Regions from separate parts of the Homo sapiens genome. Here region 1 is linked to region 2. Evidence: fine-mapped expression QTL. A gene starts in region 2. The other region holds a variant in brackets. All regions are shown on one strand. Distances are between the middles of the regions.

Region 1 (5,380 bases), 64 kb before region 2:
ATTAAAATCCTAACTGTAAGCAGTACTATTTATGTGCTATGAAAACCTAAAATAAGGGGATCTAAATACTTGGGGAGGTAACTTCCTTTAAGAATGACAATATGGGCCTGGGCGCTGTGGCCCATGCCTGTAATCCCAGCACTTTGGGAGGCCGAGGCAGGTGGATCACAATGTCAGGAGTTCGATATCAGCCTGGCCAATATGGTAAAACCATGTCTCTACTAAAAATACAAAAATTAGCTGGGCATGGTGGTGGGCACCTGTAATTCCAGTTACCTGGGAGGCTGAGGCAGGAGAATCACTTGAACCCAGGAGATGGAGGTTGCAGTGAGCCGAGATCACACCACTGCACTCCAGCCTGGGGGACAGAGACAGACGCCGTCTCAAAAAAAAAAAAAAAGACAATATGGGCCAGGTGCAGTGGCTCATGACCAGCCCAGGCAACATAACAAGACCTCACCTCTATAAAAATTTAAAAATAAATTGGCCAGGTGTGGTGGCAGGTGCTTGTAGTCCCAGCTACTTAGAGGGCTGAGGCAGGAGGATCATTTGAGCCCAGTTGTTCAAAGCTGCAGTGATCTATAATTGCCGGGTGACAGAGCAAGACTCTGTCTCAAAAATAAATAAAGAAGACACATGAACTGAGATGTGAAGGGAGAGAGAGTTATCTAGATAAAGAGAAGAAAGAAGACCATTTTGTGTAAAGGGCACAACATGTGCAATAGCCTGAAACCAAAAGGACTGGTGATAAGCAGGAAAGACTGAAAAGGTCAGTGTGGTACTCAGTTATCTCGGGTGACCCCCGGTCAACCAACCCTCCCTACATATGCCCGATGCAGGCCCCTTCCACCCCAGCAGGGATGGTCATGTGATTTGCTTTGGCTGGTGAACATTAGCAAGCCTGATGCATCCAGAGGTTGGATGAGCACTTGCATGTCAGGACATGACCCGCCTGCGCCCCCTCGACCCCCGACCCGCCGGAAAGCTCATTCTTGGAGAACTGAATATAAAGAGGTCCAGCTACCCTGCTGGAGACACAGAGTGGGAGCGATGCCTAGCCACCAGAGCTGCTCCTGCCATTGCAGCTGAGGTGACAAATATGTGAGCGAAGGAGCCATTTGGAAGTCCCAGCCCCAGCAGACACCACAAGGAGCAAAACTGCCCAGCCAGGCCCAGACAACACACACATCACGAAAAAAAAGCAGTGGCTCACGCCTGTAATCCCAGCACTTTGGGAGGCCAAGGCGACATGGTGAAACCCCATCTGTACTAAAAATACAAAAATTATTTAGCTGGGTGTGGTGGCATGCACCTGTAATCCCAGCTACTCGGGAGGCTGAAGCAGGAGAATCGCTTGAACCCGGGAGGCAGAGGTTGCAGTGAGCCGAGATTGTGCCATTGCACTCTAGCTTGGGCGACAAGAACGAAACTCCATTGCAAAAACAAAACAAAACACATTGTTTACACCGCTAAGCTTTGGAGAGTTCTAGCAACGGAAAACAGACAATCAGTGTGCCTAGGTAGTGAATTGAGAATAGACCACACAGAGAGACTAGAGAGGAAAGAGGCCTAAGATCACGCAAGCCTTACGGGATACTCCGAGGAGCATAGTCTTCATCCTGAGACGACGTAAGACACTGTGTTCAGCAGGTGGGGTCACCTGTTGAAATTCTCACCATGGAAACCCTGCCTGGGCTTCAGGGTGGAAAGCAGATGGAAACAGAGCCAAGAGTGGATGTAGGCAGCCCAGTGAGGGAACCACTGCAAGGATGACAGTAGCGTCGACTGAGATACAATGGCAGGGACAGAAGAGAGAGAACTCAGAAATATTCAGGCAGAAAGATCAGGACCTGGTCACGAATCAGACACAGAGCATGGAAAGTGTCAAGGTTTCTGGTTTGTGCAACTGTATAGATGGTGGTGGTATTCACTAGAGTAGGAAGCAGATCAAGTTTGAGGGGAAAAATAAGGCACTCAGTGTTACACATCTACGTTTTAGGTTATTTAGTCTAAGGGAAAATCATCTACAAGGAAAACGTCTACAGCAAGGGTCAGAAAACTTGTTCTGTAAAGGGCCAAGCAATACACAAAAACATGGCTTTGTGGGCCACGCAGTCTCTGCTGCAACTGTTCAACTCTGCCACGTTAGCACAAACACAGCCACAGACAATATGAAAATGCATGGACATGGCTGTGTTCCAATATAACTCTGCCAGCCCAAATTTGGCTGTAGCTTGCCAACTCCTGATCTAGAGTCAGGGGAAGATGTGTGGCATACAAATACTAATGAGTAAGTCATTCACATTAGGTAATATGTGAATCCACAACACAGATAAGACTGACTATAAAAATAAGAAATTAATAATAATAAAAAAAGCCTAGCTCTAGAGAAGCACCACCATTTAAGAGGTAGGCAGGGAAAGAAAAGCCTGGAAAGGACACAGAAAAGAGGGCAGGAGGAACCAGAGAAGTGTGTGTCACTAGAAGCAAGAATAAGAAAATGGTCAGCAGCATGCATGTGGCTGACAGAAGAAGACAAAGGCTGACCACTGACTCGTCAGTCAGTCACTCTTGACTCCTGCAACAGTGTCTTCTGAGAAGTAACTGAACTGGAAGCTGGTCTACCATGGATTCAAGAGTGGGTTGGGAAGGATGTGAAAAAATAAGGCTGGGCGCGGTGGCTCATGCCTGTAATCCCAGCACTTAGGGAGGCCGAAGCGGGCAGATCACCTGAGGTCAGGAGTTCAAGACCAGCCTGGCCAACATGGTAAAACCCATCTCTACTAAAAATACAAAAATTAGCCGGGCATGGTGGTGCACACCTGTAGTCCCAGCTACTCAGGAGGCTGAGGCAGGAGAATTGCTTAAAGCTGGGAGGCGGAGGTTGCAGTGAGCCAATATCGCACCACTGCACTCCAGTCTGGGC[G/A]ACAGAGCGAGACTCTGTCTCAAAAAAATTAATAAAATTAGTAAATTAAAAAAAAACTAAACCTCTGGAACACAGGCACCTCTTTCAGGAAGTCTGATGATGAAATAGTAGAGAGCCAGGGTGATTATAGGAGAGGGACGAGAAAACATCCAGTGTAAATATCCACAGAAAATGGATGCAACTCGAGCCTGTTGAAAAGCCAATGGGACCATTTGGCTAAGGAGAGACTGAGGATAGAAGACAGGCTGATAGCAACAAATGCCTGAGAAGACAGGAGGGAAGAGGGCCAAAGACTCAGTGGAAGAATTACTCTGGCACTGGAGAAGATTCTACTCCTTTATGGTAAAAGGAAGAAATCTCAGATGGATACTGACATAGGCAGATTTGTCTGATTGCTCTAGAGAAGATTTAGGTATTCCTAGGTGGCAACTGTTATTTTCTCTAAAAAAATAAAGGTTAAGGTAATTTGCTTTGAATAAAGGAGGAAAAGGGTGTAGTGGACAACTGCCCCTTTCTTTGATATCTATCCTGAATCCCCTTCCAAGTTTAGGGAATTCTTCCATCTTATGAGTGTTGGGGGACACTGAAAAATGCCAGGTATTCATCTTCCCAGCCTCCTTGCCACTAACAAGAAGGCACCTGACCCGGTTCCAAAGACTCCATTTCTGATTCCTAAATTGAGAACTTACAACTTAGAGAAGCAGAGCTCACAGAAAACCCTCCTCCACTGCAGGCAGCAGAGACAGTAGGTATACAGCTGGCTATAGCAAAGCCCTGCTGAAGGCACCGTGTGTCCAGTGGGGTAATGTCCCCAGTGAACTAGCTCTCTCTGGCCTGCCTGTGGTTGCATTTCTGGAAGCCACTGAGCCTCCCCTGTTCCTGCCAATTTTCCAGTTCTGATTCTGTAGCTTTCCCGGTGTTCTGTAAGCTACCTACTACTCCCCTCTTCCCCACTACCTTTTTTGAATCCCATTTTGATTCCATCAGCAAAAGCTTCCTTTGCCTACATCAAAAACTCTGTCTGATGTCCACAGGTAAAATCAGATTCGAAGAGAATATACAAGGTCTAATGACGAGTGAGAGGCTGAGCTAAGCAAATAAAAGTAACAACTGGCACTACTGTGGATGGGAGCACCAGGAAGTTTTGGGGGTACACCAGAACCAACCTGCCCTTTGTGAGAATTCCTGGGGCAGTGCTAACCCATTTGAGAGGTGACATAAACAAACTACATTAATAAAGCTATGGATCTAAAAGGCAACTCAAGGAAAAATAACAGAATCTGTTTCTTCATTATAGGAACACGAAGATGAAAAAGAAGAGCCAGAGGAGCCTGGAAAGAGATGAAAATTTTTGAGACGGAGTCTCACTTTGATGCCATCTGGAGTGCAGTGGCGTGATCCTGGCTCATTGCAACCTCCACCTCCCTGGGTTCAAGCTATTCTCCTGCCTCAGCCTCCCAAGTAGCTGGGACCACAGGTGTGCACCACCCCACCTGGCTAATTTCTGTATTTTTAGTAGAGACGGGGTTTCACCATGTTGGCCAGGCTGGTCTCAAACTCCTGACCTCAAGTAATTCTCCCGCCTCAGCCTCTAAAACTGTTGGGATTATAGGCATGAGCCGCCACTCCTGGCCAAAGCATTGTCATTTCTTAGTGGTGTGACGACTCACTTAATCGTTGTTTTCTTCATAAGGGTAAAAACTCCAACCTGTCTTTGAGGATTATGGTGAGGCTGCTGTTTCTGCTGCTTATGGTGACACCCAGGTTTTAAGCTAGGAGACTGGGAGAATGAAAGACATCAGAAAGGGGAGCCAATTTCAGGGCCAGATGCTGTTACCAGTTTAGTTTAACACAGGGTGAAGTTTGAAGTGATTATGGAAAGGCCCTGCAGGTGGCTGGAGAAGCAGGGACCGGCCGAGATGGGCTTTACTATGCTAAGGAAGTGCAGAAAGAGAAGCAGACAGGCTAACCAGCGACTCTTCAGATAAAACCAAGCATAAGGGTTGGGAGAGGGAAGCAAGTATGTGAAGGAAATAGAGAAGTTATCAGCACAATAGGAAGGGAATTATGAAGTTGACTGCAGTGTGAGGATCAGCTGTGGAGAAAGCCACTACCAATGCGAAGGCGTGAAATTAAAGTGGGGAGCATGGAGGAAAAGAGAAAGGCTGTCTGCAGCTCAGATAAAATCCTTGATGTATCACTGTTGAAAATGGAGTGGACCTCAGTGATTTGAGGAAGGCAAAGATCACACATTGAAGTTTAACAGTAAAGAAAGGAAGACACTGGATGATAGCTGGGTGGAGGAAAAGTCAACAGAACAAGCGTGAAGAATTCAGTGAGGTCCCAAAGGAGACACAAACAGGTCACAGGGGATAGATGTGAAAAAAAAGAATAAGGATATCTTTCCTGAAATAGGAAGAAATGGAGAAAGAGATATTTTGAGGAATGCACCTC
Region 2 (5,380 bases):
ACTTAGATGGTCCAGGTATCGAACTTGCAGATAACTATAATTGATATGCTAAAGGATCTTGTGGAAAAGGTAAACAATATGCATAAACAGATGAGCAGATGGGGATTTTCAGGAGAGAAACTCCAAAAGCGTCAAATGGAAATGAGAGAAAAACATGATGGCAGACATAAAGGAGCATTTGATGGAATTATCAGACAAACAAGACCTTAAAAAAATCCTATTTCAGGAAACTGCTAGAGAATGCACTGCACTGACACAAGTGAGTAAAGCAAAAAAGAGGAAGATATGAACTACAGGAAATGAGACTCAACAGAACACCCAGGTGAAGGGAATCCCGGGGTAAGCGTGAGGTCTGTGCACCAGGCACAGGGAGAAACCTGCGACATCTGGGCATGTAAGGGGACTCTGGGAGAAACTTCTTCAGGAAAACCTCTGATGATCTGATTTTGTAGAGGAAAGATTTAGTCAACTGGTTAAGAATTTAAGGAGGAATTCGTGGTAAGTATAGAAAGAACCGAACACATTTTAAAACGTCAAAATCATATGAAAAACTTGCAGGAAGAGAAAAATGATCAGTTTCCTACATAGATCACCTGCAAGCAGCATTTACAGTCATAATTTTATAAATGCTGAACACACATTTAACCAAAATTTTAACTGTGACAATATATTTTATGATATAACTAAGATATACTATGTCAAGACATAGGGGTAAATCCCCTAATATTCCGTTAAGAGGCCACAGGATTTGCTTTCTGTAACAGAGGAAATGGGAGTTGCAGGAAGCATGGAAGCACCATTGCTTATCCCTAAAACTGCAAAATAACTGGCCGAGCGCGGTGGCTCACGCCTGTAATCCCAGCGCTTTGGGAGGCCAAGGCGGGCAGATCACCTGAGGTGAGGAGTTTGAGGCCAGCCTGACCAACACGGTGAAACCCCGTCTCTATTAAAAATACAAAATTAGTGGGGCATGGTGGCGCATGCCTGTAATCCCAGCTACTCTGGAGGCTGAGGCAGGAGAACCGCTTGAACCCGGGAAGTGCAGGTTGCGGTGAGCGGAGATTGTGCCATTGCATTCCAGCCTGGGCAACAAGACCGAAACTCCATAAAACAAACAAACAAACAAACAAAACTGCAAAATAACAGACTCATGTAAATAAATGAATGTTTTAATTTTTGATGATTTAAAAAATGTTTTCCAGTGAAAACTCTCAGGGATGATCACACCTATCTGTGGACTGTTCAAATATTTACTCTCTAATGTTTTAAAATTACTTGAAAATATAACCTCATAACTTCAGCCAAACAAAAATCCTTTACCTGTAATAAATGGTCAGCTACCGTTGAAAAAGTAGAAATATTCTATTGAGACAATTTTGAGTCAATCTACTTTGTACTTGACAGTTTAAACCCAAATTTAACATGAGTGAAGTCAAACCAATCAACAGTAACGTAACAACTTGAAGGGAGGCCTTGCTGTTTCATTACTCTTGCACATAGTAGGGAGCAAAGCTCAAACAGTTAAAAAATAAAATCTGATTCATTCTATTAAATCAATGGCAAAAATACACTCAAAAGGTCGACTTAAGAAACATGTTTAACAAATATTAGTAAATCCTGTTCCTAATTACCAGGGGAAATTTCAGAAGAGTGTGATGGCCTCTATGACGCTTAATTCTAACACTCAACACTCAATTCACTAATTCACTGGTCAGTACAGATAAATAACAAATAATTTTTCTTTCAACTTGATAGATATCAACCGTTTCTATTGGGTTGAATCTACCATGATATAGTGCAGATTTGGGTCTGTAAAATCTTGCACGGGCTCCATTATCTTCCTAAACTATTCCAGGGGTGCTGTATTCCACCGGCTCTGGGTTAGAACGTTCCCAACCGCAGTGATTTGTGACTTCAAAGAACACCCTCGAGAAGGGGTTCCAAAGGTTTTCAGGCTTTAGGGGAGCAACGCGGAATAACCAAATTCTGCATGGATCGGAGTGACGACCCCGATAAGCTAGTTTTTAGAAGCAGGAAGACTCCCCTCTGGGGCAGCCAAGTAGGTAGCACTAGGCTGGGGGGCAAAGAGGCAGGTACCGTTTCCTTCCTGGGGCCCGCAGGTGCAGTCGGCCCCCAGCTCCGCCGACACCTCCACCGCCCTCTGCAGCAGGTAGCGCGCTCGCTTGCGCGTCAGGGCGTCCGCCTGGCCCAGCCCCGCCTGCACCGTCCTCCAGAAGCGCCAGCAGCGCCGGGCGTCCGGGCCCGCCTCGCGCGCGCCGCGGGCGCGGTCGCCGCCGGGCTCGGGCAACAGCTTCTCGGCCAGGGCGCTCAGGACCAGCAGCTTCTCCTCTACGCGGCCGGACCCCAGGGACGCCCCAGGCGCGGCCAGCCCGCCCCACACGGCCCGCAGCGCCGCCCCGCCACATTGGACCAGCACTGGCAGCAGTCGCCCGGCCACCAGCGCCGCCGCGTCCTCGGCAGGCCCGGCCTCATCCCCGTCCCCGCCCCCGCCCAGCGCCAGGGCGACGGCGGTCCCCGCCACGCGCTCCAGTAGCGGCCCGTCCTCGCGGGGCCGCAAACATGGCCCGACGGCTGCTAGCACTTCCACGGCAGCCTCGGCGCCAGGCGCGCGCCACCCGGCGAGCAGATCGCGCAGCGCCTCCTCAGCCAGCGCGGCCGCCAGCTGCGGACGCCCGGCCAGGCGGACGCACGAGCGCAGGGCCGCGCCCGCCGCCCTCAGCACGCGCCGGCGGTGGCGAGGCTGCAGACTGGGGTCCGGGCCGCCCGCGGGGCGTCCGCGCAGGCTCCGCAGCAGTGGCACGAGGTACCCTGCAGCCACCTCGCGCGCCGCCTCCGGGAGCGCGCCTGCGCCCCCGCTGCCGCGCGCCTCCTCGTCCTCGAGCCGCTGCAGAAGGAAGCGCAGCGTCTCCACGCGCTCCGCGGATGCCTCCCCTTGGCACAGCGCCCCAAGCAGGGCCCGGGGGTCCCGGCTCTGCGAGAGCAGCGCTTCCGCGAGCACCCACTCCATTTGCCGAGCGCCCGCGCCACCGGCCCGGGCTCCCAAAGGAAGGCGCCGGCGTGTGCGATGCGTGCGCACAGGACCGGCCGGCCCCTACGTGCGCGTGCGCCGACGGAGCCGGGCGCGCGGCCGCAGAGAGGGGGATCCCAGCCCGGCTTGGTGCAGCTCAGCTTCCCTTGGGTTCCTGCCACCAACCCTGCCTAGATAGAACCCACCTGGTCTCTTATTTTTAGGAGAAACGAGGCCTTCGTTAAAAGTTAATGTAGTATCTACACCAGCTTCATCGATTCCTGATTGGAGGTTGGTCTGCCCAGGACCCTAAATCAGGCGTGCCTGTGAGCATAAACCAGTTCACAGAAGGTGCACAGCAGAATCACTTTAGATTATTTTCCAAACGTTGCATGATGGGCACCATCCACAAAGAGACTGACACAGTAGGTCTGAAATTGGTTCTGGACATCTGCATTAAAAATAAGTCATGAAAACACAAGAATGATTTAGACGTAAGGCCAGGAGTGAGAAGTGTTACCGGTGGAGGGTGTCCAGGTCCAAGAATTGGACAAAGCGCACAAACAAAGCAAAGACAGAATGAAGCCACAAAAGCAGAGATTTATTGCAAAAGTACACTCCACAGGGTGGGGGCAGACCCAAGCAAGCCGCTCAAGGGGGGCTGGTTACAGAATTTTCTGGGGTTTAAATACCTATAGAGGTTTCAATTGGTTACTTGGTGTACACACTATGTAACTGAAGAGGATAAAATGAAGTTACAAAGTTATTTACTTGGTGTACTCCCTATGTAAATGAAGAGGATATTTCCTGTCATAGCTGAAGTGTTTCTATCTGATTTGGTTCTAGGGAGTTTTTGGATTCCCTGCCTCCAGGCCCTATTCTCCTGCCTTAGAGGTACCTATAGCAATGTGCTAGGATTCAGCTAAAACCAAGATGCCCACGCCAGCCCTCACAGCCAAGTGCCCAAGATGACTCCAGGATGCAGAGCCTCCTGCACAATGCATGTGCTCCCATGTGCAAACTCAAAAATAGTCCCTGTGTCTGTCTTTTCTGTATTTCTGACAGCATCCATTGCTAAATAGAGAAACAGAAAACCTCACCTCGGCATGCATGGTGTGGATTTGGTTCCTGGCTCAATTTGAGACAAACTAGATCAGTGACATAGGGTTTTCTTCGCTACTAAACACAAAGATCTGCCTCTTAGTCAATAGAGAAAACAGGGTCCCAACTTCAAAGAGCTTGACATATAATAACATAATGGATAAGACAAAAATTAGTTATTTAAATTTACAGTTATTTTTATATAAAGTTATCTGACTTTAAGGTTATCTGACATTACACAGGCAAGACTTTTTTCATATTTCAGTCATTCCGTTTTTCATTGACAAAATGCATAAATGTTTCTATTTTAAGCCCTTTTAACATGTCAGTAAATATCAATTACCTTCAACATAAAATGTGCAGAAAACTATTGTTTCTGTCAACATATATCTAACAAATATAAATGGGTAAATGTCTTGAGCACTTAACAAACGAAGATACACAAATGATAAGCACTTGGAAAAGTGTTCAACATCATTAGTCATCAGAGAAATGCAAATTAAACCCACAATGAGGTACCACTTCATACTGATGAGAATGGCTAACATGTAAAAGCTCGAAAACACTAAACGGCAAAGACCAAGGGTGTGGAGCAACTGGAATTCTCATACATTACTGGTGGGCATGAAAACGGTACAGTCACTTTAGAAACTGTTTCTCGTAAAGTTATAATATAGCTGCTTTATGATTCAGCGATTTCACCCCCAGGTAATTACCTAAAATAAATGAAAACATGTTTCAAAAAAAAAAGCTTGCAGAAGAATGTTTTTGACAACATTATTCGTTATAGCCAAAAGCTTATAACAACCTAGTAGGTGTTAGGTAACAACCTACATGTGCATCAAATTGAAGAATGAATAAAAAATTGTGATCTATCTATATAATAATGCTCCCAGCAATAAGACAATGAATTGCTAATCCGCTTTACATGGATAAGTCTCAGAAACAATATGTTAAACAAAGGAAGCCAGTCACAACGTTTACATCCTCGTGATTTCATTTATATGAAATCCAAGAAGAGACAAAAGTAATCTGAAGGATAGAAATGAGAACAGTAGTTGCATATAGGGAGTAGAGATTTGACTAGAATTGGGCACAAGGGAACTTTCTGGGGTGATGAAAATATTTTATGTTGATCAGGGTGTTGTTACACATTTGTCAAGACTCCTTGAACTGAACCCTTAAGATCTATGCATTTCGCTCTGCAGAAAGTTTACCTCAATCAGCCGGGCGCAGTGGCTCACACCTGTA

What was found. PIP is the estimated chance that this variant, and not a neighbour inherited with it, causes the effect.
Region 1: its variant is the best candidate, but not a certain one, in a credible set for the expression of TARBP1 in whole blood (TOPMed, PIP 0.58).

Annotation. Positions count from the first base shown.
Region 1 is chr1:234,412,037-234,417,416 of GRCh38, forward strand. All of the region lies in intron 22 of TARBP1 (tRNA guanosine 2 -O-methyltransferase TARBP1), which reads right to left. Among named protein-coding and RNA genes, the nearest start is that of COA6-AS1, 41 kb to the left of the region's middle. The variant G/A (reference allele first, on the strand shown) is at 2,927.
Region 2 is chr1:234,476,076-234,481,455 of GRCh38, forward strand. TARBP1 (tRNA guanosine 2 -O-methyltransferase TARBP1) reads right to left here and starts at 3,104. Exons shown (of 30, transcript NM_005646.4): 1 at 2,098-3,104. The coding sequence starts at 3,028. RefSeq lists silencers at 2,201-3,000, 3,031-3,220.